Linked DNA regions of Homo sapiens. The protein of the gene in region 2 interacts with the protein of the main gene of each other region in a pairwise test. Each region holds a gene or a part of one and is shown on either strand. Other genes may lie near its edges. The genes, in order: EXOSC7 and KIF24.

Region 1 (3,819 bases), on a different chromosome or scaffold from region 2:
CTCCAGATTCCTAAAGGAGAAGTGAGACTAAATTCCTTCCCCTACTAGAAGGTGACTGCCCCCCGCCCTTAGGAAAGGGGCCACATTTGGTCCAGCTTTGCAGGCTCGGGCCCATCACACAGCAGGCAAAAGTAGGTGTTGATCCTTGTTTGACTTTCCAACCCTGTTGAGTAGCCAGGCATTCCTCTGAAAGGATATGGCTCCATAACTCTGCATCCTGCAGTGTCTGGGCATAAGGCTTTCTGTGCCATGGGTCTGTAAACAGAAAGGGCAGAGAGCTAAAAATCAAGAGTCCTGAGGGCTGGCTCCAATTCTGTCATGGCCAGACTGAGCAACCGAATACTGACTGCTCAATCTCATAGTTGAAAACCAGGCTGAGGCCCTGATCTCCCTCTTCCATGCTATACCCCTAAACAATGCTTATGATGAAAGCAAGATCCACAGAAAAGAAATGGAAGCCATCAGCTGGGCTACAACTCCCTTCAACAGCCAAGAACATACAATAAAATGGCTTTCACAGGGTTCCAAGAGCCCTGTGGTAGGGTTCGTCAATTGCCATGGCCAGGTCTGAACCTATGAGGGCCAGTTTAATGTCCAGGTCATAGCCATAGCACTCAGTAGGCTGAACCTGGGAAAGCTTTATTGTGCCTAAAGCCCTGTAAAGGCCACATAACAGTCACCATCCATCCCCAACAGCCAGGACCAGGGGTAGGTGCCTGAACCAAAGGCATATAATCCAAAGGGTGACCAACTCTTTTTGGCGTGAAATACTACCAGACCAAACTGATTCTCTCATTGCAATCTGGTCTCTGATCTGAGAAACACTTGAGAGAAGAAAGGAGTTAAAGAGGAGCTGACAGGTCATGATATGGAGGAGCCCAGAGAGGCCACACGAAAGTAAAGGTATTGGGCAGAGGCAGATTCTACAAAGAAGGGAAGCTGGACAGCAAGTGGCTGCAGAGAAGGGATAAATCTTGGCAGAGAAAAGCAGAGATGTCACTAGAGATAAAGACAGACAGCCACACAGGCCATGAGATAATCCACGGAGCCCATGAGAGGCGGTACCTCAGAGCTGTCTGGGGACTTTCCAGCTCTTGCCACAGATCCCCCTTCTCTTTTTTCTTTTTCTTTCTTTTAAGAGACAGAGTATCTCTCTGTCACCCAGGCTGGAGTGAAATCTCCAACTCCTGGGCTCAAGCGATCCTCTGGCCTCAGCCTCCCAAGCAGCTAGGCCTACAGGCACACACCACCACACACCTAATTTTTTTTAGAGATAGGGTGTTGCTATGTTGCCCAGACTGGATGCCAACTCCTGGCCTCTGGTGATCCTCCCACCTCAGCCTCCCAAAGGGCTGGGATTACAGGTGTGAGCCACTGCACCTGGCCTATCCCTTTTCTTGAGATAATTGAAAAATCCCGATTCCTTCAAATCAAAAGAGGTTTAATTCTCAGGAGCCACAGGCTGAATCTTTAATGAGGTCACTATGAAGGCTGGGGATCTAGTGTGGATGGTTTAAGACAAAGTCACACTTCTGATGGAAAAACAAACTTGAAAGGGAGCCAGCATTTTTTCTGTGTTAACCACAGCCCAAGTGCTTGACATCTCTTATCTCATCATTCCTCATAACCCCATTCTACTTCCAGGTGCATAAGTCCCCATTTTACACAAGGGAAGCAGGTTCAGTTATGCAAGTAAAACCACTTATTGTAAATGGTGAAGGTGCCTGCTCAGTCTGACTCCAAAGCCTCATTCAAAAAGAGGCAGGAAACCATATGACTTCAGCAGGAGAGAGCAGAGATTTCTTTATCTCTGGTCAGTGGCTTACCCATGGGCCAATGTCTGGTGGCTGCCCCCAAATTTCCCAACACTTTATGATAATGTCCATTCTCAGGCCCCAGCCCCAGAGAGTCTGATTCAGAATGTTGGGGTAAAGCCTCAGAATCTGTATTTTGTAGGTGAGTAAAATGCACTTCAAGGCTTCAGAATCCCTGGGCTAAGAGGGAGGTTAGCAATGGCTTCTCATGGATGAGGAAAACACACATCTAGCCCAGTAAGCCAGAAAAGAGGATAAATCCTAGATTCTAAAAATTCTGAAGTCTGCTCCAAGTTCTGCATGGTATGGGCAGAGTAAATCGTTTATGATACTAGTAAGACAAAAGCTATACAAAGAAATGCAATATAGGGTTCTAAAGGAACTTATACTCAATGTGGGAAAAATGCAACCAAAACAATACAGCAGTATATGCCATATACTATTTAAGCTCTAGAAAAACTGGGGAGTGGGAGGTGTCAATTAGAACTTTCTCTTTCCCTTCCAGTTTCCCCACAAGCTTTTAGAGAAAGGGGGAAAGAAAAGGAGGTAGAGGAAGCAAAGATTCTCTCCTGCCTTGATCTCTGGATCCCTACTGAGGAAATGGAAGAAATGACTTTCACTGCAGCAGGAAGGTGGCCTCAGAGTCAAGTATGGGCTTTGCAATCAGACAGGTCTGGATTTAAATCCCAGTGCCACCACTCAATTACTGTGTCACCTTGACAAGCGACTCAACCTGCCCGAGCTCAGTTCCTCATCTATAGAGATAACATTTACCTTCAGAACTGTTGTAAATATTCAATGAAATAAAAATTATAATATGTACCTAATAAGAATGGGATATAGCCTTCAAAGACTGAAAGAGAACCTAACAGAAACCAATCAAATTATTTATCAAAATACCGATTTAATCCACCTTTTTGATTCTCTGTTCTCCCCTGGGAGAGGGGATCTGTTCACCAGGTTGACTCAAATTGTATCACCTAGACTCCCTTTGCTGGCTTCTGGTTGGGTTTGTCCAGTGGAAGATACCAGATCAGAGGGTGCCCCTCACCCCCAATCTAGTGGCCACATTTCTGATAGTGCCTGCATCTATCGAAGACTATGACTTATGTTGGGCAGCCCTTCCTCCACAGTTCCAGCTATCACTGAAATGTGGTAATACTGTTTCCTCCCCTGGCCCCTTTGGAATAGGGGCAGTAGCCACTCCCAGTAGTTGTCTTGGGGCTCCTCAACATCTCTTATTGGTTCCCTGAAACCCCCCCCATACTGCTCTAGAGTCCCATCATAAAAGTCTCCTGAACTACCTGAAGAGGGTTCCATTTTCTGCCAATAACTAAAATGATCCACCCTCCCTTCTCACAAACTGACTTCTCCCAAGTGTGACACATCCTCTAGTGGCCATGTTTGAGCCTAATTATTCTGTCCATCCTTTCCCTCAACCCCCTAAAAGAACTAGAGTTTCTTTCTCTTGGAAACATGAGTTCAGAACTGAACGAGAAGGAATGGTCTCTTTTACAGAGGAACTGGGAAGGAACCACATTTTTTCTACCACTGGCCCAAGAAATAGAAAACCAATCTGTAGGGAGACAAAAACAAAGCAAAGAGGGGGAAAAAAAAAACCAGCAGAGATTAGGATTCCTGGAGAAACACTTGCAGCCTTGTAATCCATACTGTTTTGCTTGAGCCGATGTGTTGGTTACCATTACTAGCAACTGAATCCTCAACACATCGTGAGGTTAATTTCAACTGCTTCTAACTATCACCAAAACAAGATGAAATATTCCCTGAAATAGTAAAAGAACCAAAGGCTGAAGGGAAAGTGACATCAGAAGCTGAAATGGACGTTACTGGACCAAAGGTGAAAAGTAAAACACAAAATGACTAGGACTATACAAGCAACAGGAGTTCAGGCAGGCACTGCTTAAGGTGCACTGCCGGCACTCTATAACCAACGCAACAAAAGTTTAGGAGATTTCAGAACTGAATCAGTTGAGATTCCATGGTA
Region 2 (3,819 bases):
ATGAGACTAAAGAATTATTGCAAGGTACCTTCAGCTTGGAATAAGTTTCTTTCAATACCAAACTCTTTCTCCTTGGACTCTTCATAATCACTCTAGCAGGCAGTGAACATTATTTACATGGCTGAGTTATTAGTGTTTTATTTAAACCCTTATATGTTAGATGTGAAATCATATCTCTGGATTTTATTTACCCACTGCAATCTACCCTGTATAAAGTGGTCTGCTCAGAGCCCAATTTTCGCCAATTAAGTATAAGCCCAAGACAGCTGAGAATCAAAATAAGCACGTGGCTGGCAATTGTCGGTCCTGTTGCCCAAAAAGATATTGTCCATCATTAAACCCAAGTCTCAAAGTCAGCAGAATGAGAAGTTCACACTGTGAGATGCAAGCAAGAATGGAAATCAACTGTGTGACATCTCATAGTCATATATTCAGTGACTGGTCCTGTTGACAACTACTTAATTATTTATTTGTTTTTTATTTTTATATTCTTTTAGAGGCAGATCCTCCCTCTGTTGCCCAGGCTGGAGTGCAGTGGTGCAATCATAGCTCACTGTAATGCAGAACTCCTGGGCTCAAGTGATCCTCCTGCCTCAGCCTCCTGAGTAGTTAAGACTACAGGTACACACCACCATGCTGGGCTAGTTTTAAGATCTTTTCTGGAGAGACAGGATCTCGCTATGGTGCCCAGGGTGGTCTCAAACTCTTGGGCTCAAGTGATCCTCCCACTGCAGCCTCCCAAAGCACTGGGATTATAGGCGTGAGCCACCACACCTGGCCCCACTTCATTATTTAAATTATTTTTATTCCTTCATTCCTCCTTTTTTTTGCTGAATATGTATAATTAAATTCACACAAAGCATGTTAAGTGAATATATGATGTAGCTCCACTGCACAAGAGAAATTGTTTTTGTATCCCCTATTGCACCGTCTTTTGAAAAAATGAAGGCCCTGGATATCAATGACTTAATACAGTGTCACATCAGGAATGAATGTCAACACCCGAACCAGAAACTTGATTTTCAGTGTTCTAACAGAAACTTGTATGCCACCACTCAAACAAAAAGCAAAAAAAAATGACATACTTGATAATATTAGTTCCAAACATAAAACGAAAACATCATACCTGCAGAATATATTGAGTGAGGTCAACTGCTTCTTTCTTCTCATGCACAAGTAGAGTTTCTTTGTCTTCTACAGTAATAATATTAATTTCTCCACGACGTACCTCCCTCATGCCCAGGGGGCGTTTTCGAACACAAACTCTGATTTTCTCCATCTCAGTCCAAGGATTCTGTTTCTCTGAAGTGTTCTGTCTAATATGTTTATAAACAGGCTTTTAATTTTTAATAATAGGACAAGATTACTTAACAGGTCAAAGTATTGGTACCTTTTAGCCGGGCGCGGTGGCTTACGCCTGTAATCCCAGCACTTTGAGAGGCCGAGGTGGGCGGATCACGATGTCAGGAGATCAAGACCATCCTGGCTAACACGGTGAAACCCCATCTCTACTAAAAATACAAAAAATTAGCCAGGCATAGTGGCGTGCGCCTGTAATCCCAGCTACTTGGGAGGCTGAGGCAGGAGAATGGCGTGAACCCGGGAGGCAGAGCTTGCAGTGAGCCGAGATTGCGCCACTGCACTCCAGCCTGGGCGACAGAGCCAGATTCTGTCTCAAAAAAAAAAAAAGTATTGGTACATTTTGCTGTATATTAGGCATAATATATTTCTTAAAGTTACAAAGTAAAGTGTCAACCCTGAGAAAGTTCTTCTATCTCCATCCCCACCCTGCTCCGCCCTTTTCCTTGCAAAAACACAAATAACAGAACAACAACAAAAAACCAACCAACAAACAAAAAACCCCTAAGAGATCATATATAGAATACTATTTTATACAATTGTTTCATATCAATTCTGATTTCCTTAGCCCTCCAACTGGCTGCTGAAAAAAAATTTTTTTTGAGATAGGATCTCACTCTGTCACCCAGACTGGAGTACAGTGGCACAGCCATGGCTCATTGCAGCCTCAACCTCCAGGGTTCAAGAAATTCTACCTCAGCCTCCTAAGTAGCTAGGACTATAGCATACAACACCGCAGCTGGCTAATTTTTGTAATTTTTGTAGGGACAGGGTCCCACTATCTTGCCCAGGCTGGTCTTCAACTTATGGCCTCAAGCAATCCTCCCATTTTGGCCTGTCAAAGTGCTGGGATTACAAGCATCAGTCATCACGCTCAGCCTGGAGAATAATTTTTTTACTGGGATCTGAATTGGTTTAAAAAAAAAAAAACCAGCAAATAATTTTCTAATATAATGAATGCATAAAGCACTAATTTTATGGCATGTTTTAAAGCAAATTTTATTTTCTTAACCAACATTTAGGGACTTTAAAATGCATCATTTTTGCATGAAACTGCAGATGGAATAAATAAATGACAGAATAAATGAAATGTACCATTTTGAGGTACTGTGGGAAAATCGTGACAATCATTGAAACTGGATGACGGGCCAGGTGCGGTGGCTCACGCCTGTAATCCTAGCACTTCGAGAGGCTGAGGCGGGCAGATCACTTGAGGTCAGGAGTTCGAGACCAGCCTGGCCAACATGGTGAAACCCCATCTCTACTAAAAATATAAAACTTAGCTGGGCATGCTCACTTAAACCCAGGAGGTGGAGTTCACAGGTGAGATAGTGCCATTGCATTCCAGCCTGGGCAACAGAGCAAGACTCTGTCTGAAAAAAAAAAAAAAAAAAAGAAAAAAGAAAAAGAAATTGGATGATGGACATATTGGGATTCAGTGTTCTATTTTTTTCTTCTTTTGCATATGTTTGATTTTTCACAAGAAAAGGGAATTTTTTGTTTTGAGACAGGGTCTTGCTCTATCACCCAGACTGGAGTGCAGTGGTGCGAGCATAGCTCACTGAAGCCTCAACCTCCTGGGCTGAAGCCATCCTCCCACTTCAGCCAATAGTAGCTGGAACTACAGGTGCACACCATCATGTCTGGCTAATTTTTGTATTTTTGTAGAAACAGGGTCTCACCATGTTGCCCAGGCTGGCCTCGAACTCCTGGGCTCAAGCAATCTGCCTGCCTTGGCCTCCCAAAATGCCAGGATTGCAGGCATGAGCCACTGTGCTCATCAAAAATGAAAATTTTTAATGCTTTTTTTTTTTTTTGAGACAGAGTTTCATTGTGTCACCCAGGCTGGAGTGCAGTGGCACAATCTTGGCTCACTGCAACCTCTGCCTCCTGGGTTCAAGCGATTTTCCTACCTCAGCCTCTAGAATAGCTGGGACTGCAGGCACCTGCCATGACGCTCTGCTAATTTTTGTATTTTTAGTAGAGATGGGGTTTAGCCATGTTGGCCAGGCTGACCTTGAACTCCTGACCTCAGGTGATCCACCCGCCTTGGCCTCCCAAAGTGCTGGGATTAGAGGTGTGAGCCACTGTGCCTGGCCTAATGCATCATTTTAATAAGGGTTTTGTGTTAAAATCTTTAGTTGTTGGATATCAATAACCTAATCATATAAAGCTGATCAAAGAGGATAGAAAATGTTTGGTCCTTTTTAAAATTGTTCAGGGCTCTAGGATGACTCATATGAACAAAAGGCCCATAGTTTCAAGTTCAAGGAGCAAAAAGACATGCATGTTTTTTTAAAAAGCTCTAGTTTGGGCAGGGCAGAGTGGCTCTCACCTGTAATCCCAGTGCTTTGGGAAGCTGAGGTGGGAGGATCACTTGAGGCCAGGAGTTCAAGACCAGCCTGGGTAACATAGTGAGATCCCCAACTCTACAAAAAATTGAAAAATTAGCTGGGGACA

Evidence for each region.
Region 1: the proteins of KIF24 (region 2) and EXOSC7 interact in a two-hybrid assay, tested with the Homo sapiens proteins (one large-scale study listed by BioGRID).

What each region holds. Positions count from the first base shown.
Region 1 is NC_000003.12:44,979,203-44,983,021, reverse strand, and holds part of EXOSC7 (exosome complex component RRP42), read right to left. Parts: intron 1-3,819. UniProt on the Homo sapiens protein: Non-catalytic component of the RNA exosome complex which has 3'->5' exoribonuclease activity and participates in a multitude of cellular RNA processing and degradation events.
Region 2 is NC_000009.12:34,305,126-34,308,944, forward strand, and holds part of KIF24 (kinesin-like protein KIF24), read right to left. Parts: intron 1,317-3,819; coding exon 1,127-1,316; intron 1-1,126. UniProt on the Homo sapiens protein: Microtubule-dependent motor protein that acts as a negative regulator of ciliogenesis by mediating recruitment of CCP110 to mother centriole in cycling cells, leading to restrict nucleation of cilia at centrioles.